2 linked regions of the Homo sapiens genome follow. The protein of the gene in region 1 purifies or fractionates together with the protein of each later gene. This does not show direct contact. Each region holds a gene or a part of one and is shown in the gene's direction. Other genes may lie near its edges. The genes, in order: ESAM and CENPF.

Region 1 (4,368 bases):
GCTGAGAGGGCATATGGGGCACTGTATAGAAAAAGATCTTGTGTGAAGTGTGGGCCCAGGGACTACACTCTGTTAAAACAGCAAAACTATGTGCAGTAAATGGAATCCCGCAGGCCTGGCTGCTTTTCTTCCCAGACAGCTCTGCCCGCAGAGCGGGCAGCGTCAGGAATTCGTTGTTATGCTTTCTTCCCTCACTGACCTTTGCTGGGTGGTTGAGCTGTGCTGGGATGTTTGAAGCATTTTTTTTTTTTTTTTTTTTTTTTTTTTTTGGCTGTTGGACAGAAAAGCAAGAACAGGTGCGTGCCTTTCTGTAAGGGAGCGGCGGCCGCCAGAGGGCGCAGAGGTGCCTTTTGACCGAATGGCGCGGGAAGGGGGGCGTAAAATTCAATTCACAGCGACCAAGATCTAGTCTCGGGAATTAAAGGATCAGAGCGCGCCTGAGCCTTTCGCTGCGGGGATGGGAGGCACTGAAGATTTGGGGGATAAAGAAGAAACGGAGGGACTGTCCTGTCTTCCTTCCCGCAGCCGCCCCTCCTCCCCAGTCAGCATCAGGCCCGTACGCCGCTCATTTCAGGGGCTAAGCTGGGAGCAGCACGCACGTTGCCTCAGTTTCCTGCTCAGCTCCCGGGACTACCTTGTGCCAACCTTCCCTGCTCGGAGTATGAGGCACAGGCCGGGGTAATCCTCCAGCCTGGGCTGGGGTCTGCTGAACTCGCGGAGCGCTTTTTCCTGCCCGCGGGTGAAGATTCCCCGCTGGCGCGTCCCGGGGCGCCCTGGGCTCCCGCGCGACCTCTGCCGTCGCCCTCGCTGCCGCGCTCCGGTGGCCGCGCAGCCCCCGCCTCCAGGAAAGCCACAGATTCCCGCTGTGCCAGGGAGCCCGCGCGGCCGGCGCTCCGGCCTCTCCCTGCAGCTGGAAAACGCTGCTCCCCTCTTCCTCCTTCAGGAAGACCGCCCTGATTGGGCCGGGGATGCGGCACCCCCAAGTTTGGAGCCAGAGCCCAGGAGCGTTTACATGTCAGGTGTTACGGGTGGTTCTGACTTCGGATAGTCCCCAAATTTCCCACCCTTCCTGGTCACCCTTCCTATCCCACCCCGGCGGAAGGGAAGGTTACGGCTCAGGATAGTTCTGGAGCCTCCTCTTCCCCCTCTACTCGTACCTGGCTGGCTCGTGGGGCATCAGAGCTTACCTCACCCCTCCCTGCGTCCAGACCTGGAGGAGGCCGCAGGGTCCCGCCGTCCGCGCGCTGGGGGCGCCCCCGGGCGGCGGACCCCGCGCGCCCCGCCCGGGAGGACGGCGACCTCTCCGCCCCCTCGAATGCCCCGCCCCGCTGTCGCCGTCGGTCCCCACCCCGCCACCGGCACACAGGCGCGCAGACTTGGGCTGGAGCCGCCCTGGGTGTCAGCGGCTCGGCTCCCGCGCACGCTCCGGCCGTCGCGCAGCCTCGGCACCTGCAGGTCCGTGCGTCCCGCGGCTGGCGCCCCTGACTCCGTCCCGGCCAGGGAGGGCCATGATTTCCCTCCCGGGGCCCCTGGTGACCAACTTGCTGCGGTTTTTGTTCCTGGGGCTGAGTGCCCTCGGTGAGTGAAACCCGGACCTGGAGGGGACTTGGGATGCGGGATGGGGTGAGTTCGACCCTGAGGGAGAACTTTGGCCACTGCTGCGGAACTGGGTCCCACGACTCGCCCTCCTCCCCTGACCTCCTAATCCCACTCCAGGGCATCACTGGCTGGCGCTGACTTCTCGCTTTGTCGGGGACAGCCCCCAGTTTGGGTGTGGGGGCGGATGGCGGGGGGAGGTAAGGGCATCTCTCGGAAGACCTGGATACCTCTGGGGTGAGTTATCGGAACCATTCCTCACCCTGTCCACTCCCCACCCCCCACCCAGCAGAGCCGGATGAGCTGAGCCGCTAGATGAGACACTGGCTAAAGAGCTTAAGGACTTAACTCTAGCCCCCTCTCATCCCCGACCCCACATACAAGCTGATGAGGAAGATCCCCCGGGGAAATACCCCTGGTCCCCAGGCTTGACACACGCACTTCGTGTCAATTCCCCAGCGCAGATGCTCTCTCTTGCCCCCTCCTGCTTCCTGCCCTGGGAATCAAGGGAGGTGCCCCAAAAGGACGACCGTGAGGTCATTTGGGACACAGGAAATGGGGGAGGGGTTCAAACGCACAGAGAAACAGAATTGTGACCACCCCACCCCCCCAAGGCCCACCACCCTTATTGGTTTCCAGAGCCAAAGGGAAGAGGGGAAATTGGGAGGAGGGTGGCCAAGGGTCAGAGAGGAAGGGAACCTCCTTGGAGCAAGTGTTTGGGAAGTGTTGTAGGCCTCCAGGGGCGCTGGCTTCAGCTGAAGCTGGGGTGGCTCAGAACTCCATCTGGGAGAGGACCCGGCAGGACTAGGCCCTTTTAAACTATTTCACTTGCTGTCCCTCAGCTTTCTTGCCATCTCCCTTCAAGGATCTCGAATGGGAGTGAAGGGTGGGTTTAGCTATATTGACTTTAACTCATTTCTCAGGTTGGAGGATGTCAGGACAAGTAAGGCCTGGGAAGCTGTAGAGTGAAATTCTACAATGATGGGGACAGAGATGAGGATCACCAGTGTCCCCTTTAGCATGTTCTGTGCCCCACAGGTGTCGGGGCATGCAATATTATAGTCCTTGGACAAAATGAGTCTCAAGTACAGCCCCCCAGGCCACACCAAGGCCACAAGTAGCCTTCTGTCCCTCTGGGCTTGGTGGGCCTGCTCCAGGATCCCTCAGACTTCTCATCCCGCCTTTCCCAACTTCAACTTCAGCTCTGTTCCTTCTGCATTCCACCCCAACTCTATCCCCCTTCCTTGTGGGGGGTGGGGGCTGGGGGAATCTCTGAAGCCAGGGAGGACAGTTCAAGTTGACTGCCTGAGTGTCCCAGGCTTCACCTGCTGCTCATCTGCAACCCTTTGTCCTACCCCAGCTTTGAGCCTCAGTTTGTCAGACTGAAGACCTGGACTCAAAAGTTCCAATCGGTCCCCCTGGGGGGTTGCCCAGTTCCCGCCAGCCACTCGAGGGTTAAATGGCACTGGTGACCCCGGTGCAACGTGCAGGCGCCCGGCTCCGCTCTTCTGGGCTCTGGAGGAGGCTCTCCGGCTCAGTAGGCTCCTCGGCGGCTCAGTGCTGCTGCCCCTGGGGCGTGAGAAGCCCGCGGGGGGAGTTTCTCAGAGAAAGAGGGAGACTAAAAATAGCCCCGGGGAGCGGGCCCATTTCGCTCTCCTTCGGCCCCTGCCGGCTCCCTCACTCTGGCCTCGGAGAGGGCTGTGGGCCGGAAGGGTCCCTTTCTTGGGCTGTCCCAGTGTCCTTCGATCAGACCCAACCAGACTCCTTTTCTCTCCCAGTGGCTCCGTGGACCCTGGGACCGAAAAAAACGGACCAGTTGGTGACTTCCGAGCCAGCAGACACCCAGGAGGGAGAGCAGAAAAGCCTCAGGCCCTCTTCTGTTCCTAGTTTCTGACAGGGCGAAGGGCAAGGAGCATGTGCCCAGACCCCAGTGTGTCCGTTACTATCTCTTTTAACTCTCCTCTACCTTCTGGAAAGTGGAATTATAAATGTGGGACCTGGGGAGGTCGCTGGTGGTCCACAAGGTGAAGGAAGGGCGCGCCCCTTCTGGGCCCCAGGCAGTTTCCCGGCGGAAACCCTTTCTGGCCGCCGGGTGTGTGTCGTAGAAAGGCTGGGGGAGAGCCGGCAGCACCTGCAGGCTCCAGGCGTGCCCGGCCTCAGCGGAATGGCCAGCGGGCCGGGTCCCCAGGGGGCGTCCAGCTCCTTGAGGCGGGGATTGTTTCCTCCCGTAGAGCCTCCGGTCTAGTGGCCCCCCCTTCATTGTCTTCTGCCTTATCACTGGGTACAAATTTCCTGCCCAGACCACAGAGATCCTCCAGGAAATGGGAAGGGGGATGCTGCGAAGGCCAAGTAACAGAGGTGGGGGTTCTGTACGGCGCAGCCGGGAAGCGGTGGGGGAGGCTTGCATCCTGGCCGGATCGGCTCCCAGCCCTTAGAGGCCTTCAGCCTGGCTCTCCTAGGGCGAGGGTGGAGAGCGGGGCCTGGCTGCGGCCTCTTCCCGCGGCGTTGGCCGCCTGCTCGCCACGCGGAGGTGGCGTCTTCCGCTCCGAGGCAGAGGGCCGAGGCCTGGAGGGAGTAGGGCCCGGGACTGGAGCGGCGATCATCCTCAGGCCTGGCCGTGTGCAAGCCCAAGGTTATTCCCCAAAGGGCTTACCAGTTGGCTGCTCTGTTGCCTCCCCGAAGGGCAAAGGATGAGTATTTCTGGACGCCGTGGTGCAAACGATGGCCCCCTCCTTGAAACCAACACCCCGGTCCACCCCCTGAGCGCCGGAC
Region 2 (3,808 bases), on another chromosome or scaffold:
TTAAAAAAGAGCAACCATCTACTTGAAGACTCTCTAAAGGAGCTACAACTTTTATCCGAAACCCTAAGCTTGGAGAAGAAAGAAATGAGTTCCATCATTTCTCTAAATAAAAGGGAAATTGAAGAGCTGACCCAAGAGAATGGGACTCTTAAGGAAATTAATGCATCCTTAAATCAAGAGAAGATGAACTTAATCCAGAAAAGTGAGAGTTTTGCAAACTATATAGATGAAAGGGAGAAAAGCATTTCAGAGTTATCTGATCAGTACAAGCAAGAAAAACTTATTTTACTACAAAGATGTGAAGAAACCGGAAATGCATATGAGGATCTTAGTCAAAAATACAAAGCAGCACAGGAAAAGAATTCTAAATTAGAATGCTTGCTAAATGAATGCACTAGTCTTTGTGAAAATAGGAAAAATGAGTTGGAACAGCTAAAGGAAGCATTTGCAAAGGAACACCAAGAATTCTTAACAAAATTAGCATTTGCTGAAGAAAGAAATCAGAATCTGATGCTAGAGTTGGAGACAGTGCAGCAAGCTCTGAGATCTGAGATGACAGATAACCAAAACAATTCTAAGAGCGAGGCTGGTGGTTTAAAGCAAGAAATCATGACTTTAAAGGAAGAACAAAACAAAATGCAAAAGGAAGTTAATGACTTATTACAAGAGAATGAACAGCTGATGAAGGTAATGAAGACTAAACATGAATGTCAAAATCTAGAATCAGAACCAATTAGGAACTCTGTGAAAGAAAGAGAGAGTGAGAGAAATCAATGTAATTTTAAACCTCAGATGGATCTTGAAGTTAAAGAAATTTCTCTAGATAGTTATAATGCGCAGTTGGTGCAATTAGAAGCTATGCTAAGAAATAAGGAATTAAAACTTCAGGAAAGTGAGAAGGAGAAGGAGTGCCTGCAGCATGAATTACAGACAATTAGAGGAGATCTTGAAACCAGCAATTTGCAAGACATGCAGTCACAAGAAATTAGTGGCCTTAAAGACTGTGAAATAGATGCGGAAGAAAAGTATATTTCAGGGCCTCATGAGTTGTCAACAAGTCAAAACGACAATGCACACCTTCAGTGCTCTCTGCAAACAACAATGAACAAGCTGAATGAGCTAGAGAAAATATGTGAAATACTGCAGGCTGAAAAGTATGAACTCGTAACTGAGCTGAATGATTCAAGGTCAGAATGTATCACAGCAACTAGGAAAATGGCAGAAGAGGTAGGGAAACTACTAAATGAAGTTAAAATATTAAATGATGACAGTGGTCTTCTCCATGGTGAGTTAGTGGAAGACATACCAGGAGGTGAATTTGGTGAACAACCAAATGAACAGCACCCTGTGTCTTTGGCTCCATTGGACGAGAGTAATTCCTACGAGCACTTGACATTGTCAGACAAAGAAGTTCAAATGCACTTTGCCGAATTGCAAGAGAAATTCTTATCTTTACAAAGTGAACACAAAATTTTACATGATCAGCACTGTCAGATGAGCTCTAAAATGTCAGAGCTGCAGACCTATGTTGACTCATTAAAGGCCGAAAATTTGGTCTTGTCAACGAATCTGAGAAACTTTCAAGGTGACTTGGTGAAGGAGATGCAGCTGGGCTTGGAGGAGGGGCTCGTTCCATCCCTGTCATCCTCTTGTGTGCCTGACAGCTCTAGTCTTAGCAGTTTGGGAGACTCCTCCTTTTACAGAGCTCTTTTAGAACAGACAGGAGATATGTCTCTTTTGAGTAATTTAGAAGGGGCTGTTTCAGCAAACCAGTGCAGTGTAGATGAAGTATTTTGCAGCAGTCTGCAGGAGGAGAATCTGACCAGGAAAGAAACCCCTTCGGCCCCAGCGAAGGGTGTTGAAGAGCTTGAGTCCCTCTGTGAGGTGTACCGGCAGTCCCTCGAGAAGCTAGAAGAGAAAATGGAAAGTCAAGGGATTATGAAAAATAAGGAAATTCAAGAGCTCGAGCAGTTATTAAGTTCTGAAAGGCAAGAGCTTGACTGCCTTAGGAAGCAGTATTTGTCAGAAAATGAACAGTGGCAACAGAAGCTGACAAGCGTGACTCTGGAGATGGAGTCCAAGTTGGCGGCAGAAAAGAAACAGACGGAACAACTGTCACTTGAGCTGGAAGTAGCACGACTCCAGCTACAAGGTCTGGACTTAAGTTCTCGGTCTTTGCTTGGCATCGACACAGAAGATGTAAGTACCTGGGATTTAAATGCCATTTCTCGGTTTACATGACTAGTGGACACTCAGTAAATGTTTGTCTAATTGAAATGTACATTAAACCTAAGTTAAAATATTTTTAGGGTTCAAGGAAATAAAATACACCAAAATATTTTCAAAACAAACCAGAACTTGAGGAAAATGAGTAAACGTTATTTGAGGAATAAATTTCTATAGGGATTAGATTTACATAGCATTATATAGAATATTACTAAAGATGTTTTTAAAGTCTGGAGAAAATTATATTATGGAGTCAGAAAGTCTTTAGAATGTGTGTTTCCACCCTTTGTGCATTAATAAAGTATACTGAAATAATTAAGAACTTACAAATGGTAATATGTAAATTTTTAATCTCTCCCACTTTTCAGACTATTTTTGATGTTATGGCATTATCGTCATGAAACTAAATACAGCAGATTCTTTATGTATTACTAAACAGTTTTCTCTCTAACAATTTACTGTGGTACAAAAATATGATTTGGTATAAGTCATTTAAAAGGGCTTTTAAAAAATTGAATACATATTTGTTTAATTGCTTGTAACTTTGTCCTTTCTAGCCTGCTAGCTTAATTAATAATGCTATATAGTGTATGCATGTCACTTGATTTCCTCTGTCTATCTCTGTGAGGTAGAGAAGGCAGGTCATGGTGAGGTGATGGCAGGTGTAGGTGCAACAGCAGATCCCCAGTTTACAGATGAGAGGAAAGTGAGGCTCAAATATGTAATTTATCCAATAATGTACAGTAAGTGCTGGATTGGGGATTAAGTCCTTGGACTGGGAATCTGGTTATGAAACTTTACTGCCTTATTAAAGAGTATCATAAATGCTGAAGGTGGAAGCTGAGCATTTTGTTAGCCTCTTATTTAATAATTACAAAGAGATTTCATATTTAGGCTACCTGAATATTCTTAGCAAGGGAAAAATATGAAATTTAAATACATTACAAATTGTAATTGAGCCGAAGGGTTTGTCTTCAAGATAAATGCCTAACCCCAGTGTCTTGCCCATAGGGGCCACTTACTGAACGTATAAGTATGTTGAACATTTGAATGAAGAGAGAAAGATGTAGTGGGAAATTCACCACTTTAAGAGATGTGTTTAGCAGAGGCCACGCATCAGTTTCTAAAAAGTAATAACTAAATCTATTCTATTTTGATTCTTTTTGAAAAATAAAATGCATGCTTGTTATGTATTATAATTACAGGCTATTCAAGGCCGAAATGAGAGCTGTGACATATCAAAAGAACATACTTCAGAAACTACAGAAAGAACACCAAAGCATGATGTTCATCAGATTTGTGATAAAGATGCTCAGCAGGACCTCAATCTAGACATTGAGAAAATAACTGAGACTGGTGCAGTGAAACCCACAGGAGAGTGCTCTGGGGAACAGTCCCCAGATACCAATTATGAGCCTCCAGGGGAAGATAAAACCCAGGGCTCTTCAGAATGCATTTCTGAATTGTCATTTTCTGGTCCTAATGCTTTGGTACCTATGGATTTCCTGGGGAATCAGGAAGATATCCATAATCTTCAACTGCGGGTAAAAGAGACATCAAATGAGAATTTGAGATTACTTCA

Evidence for each region.
Region 2: the proteins of ESAM (region 1) and CENPF purify together in Homo sapiens (affinity purification with mass spectrometry; one large-scale study listed by BioGRID and IntAct). This does not show direct contact.

The regions. Positions count from the first base shown.
Region 1 is NC_000011.10:124,759,295-124,763,662, reverse strand, and holds the start of ESAM (endothelial cell-selective adhesion molecule precursor), read left to right. Parts: upstream 1-1,372; 5' UTR 1,373-1,508; coding exon 1,509-1,578; intron 1,579-4,249; exon of another isoform or gene 4,250-4,368.
Region 2 is NC_000001.11:214,641,126-214,644,933, forward strand, and holds part of CENPF (centromere protein F), read left to right. Parts: coding exon 1-2,199; intron 2,200-3,431; coding exon 3,432-3,808. UniProt on the Homo sapiens protein: Required for kinetochore function and chromosome segregation in mitosis. Required for kinetochore localization of dynein, LIS1, NDE1 and NDEL1.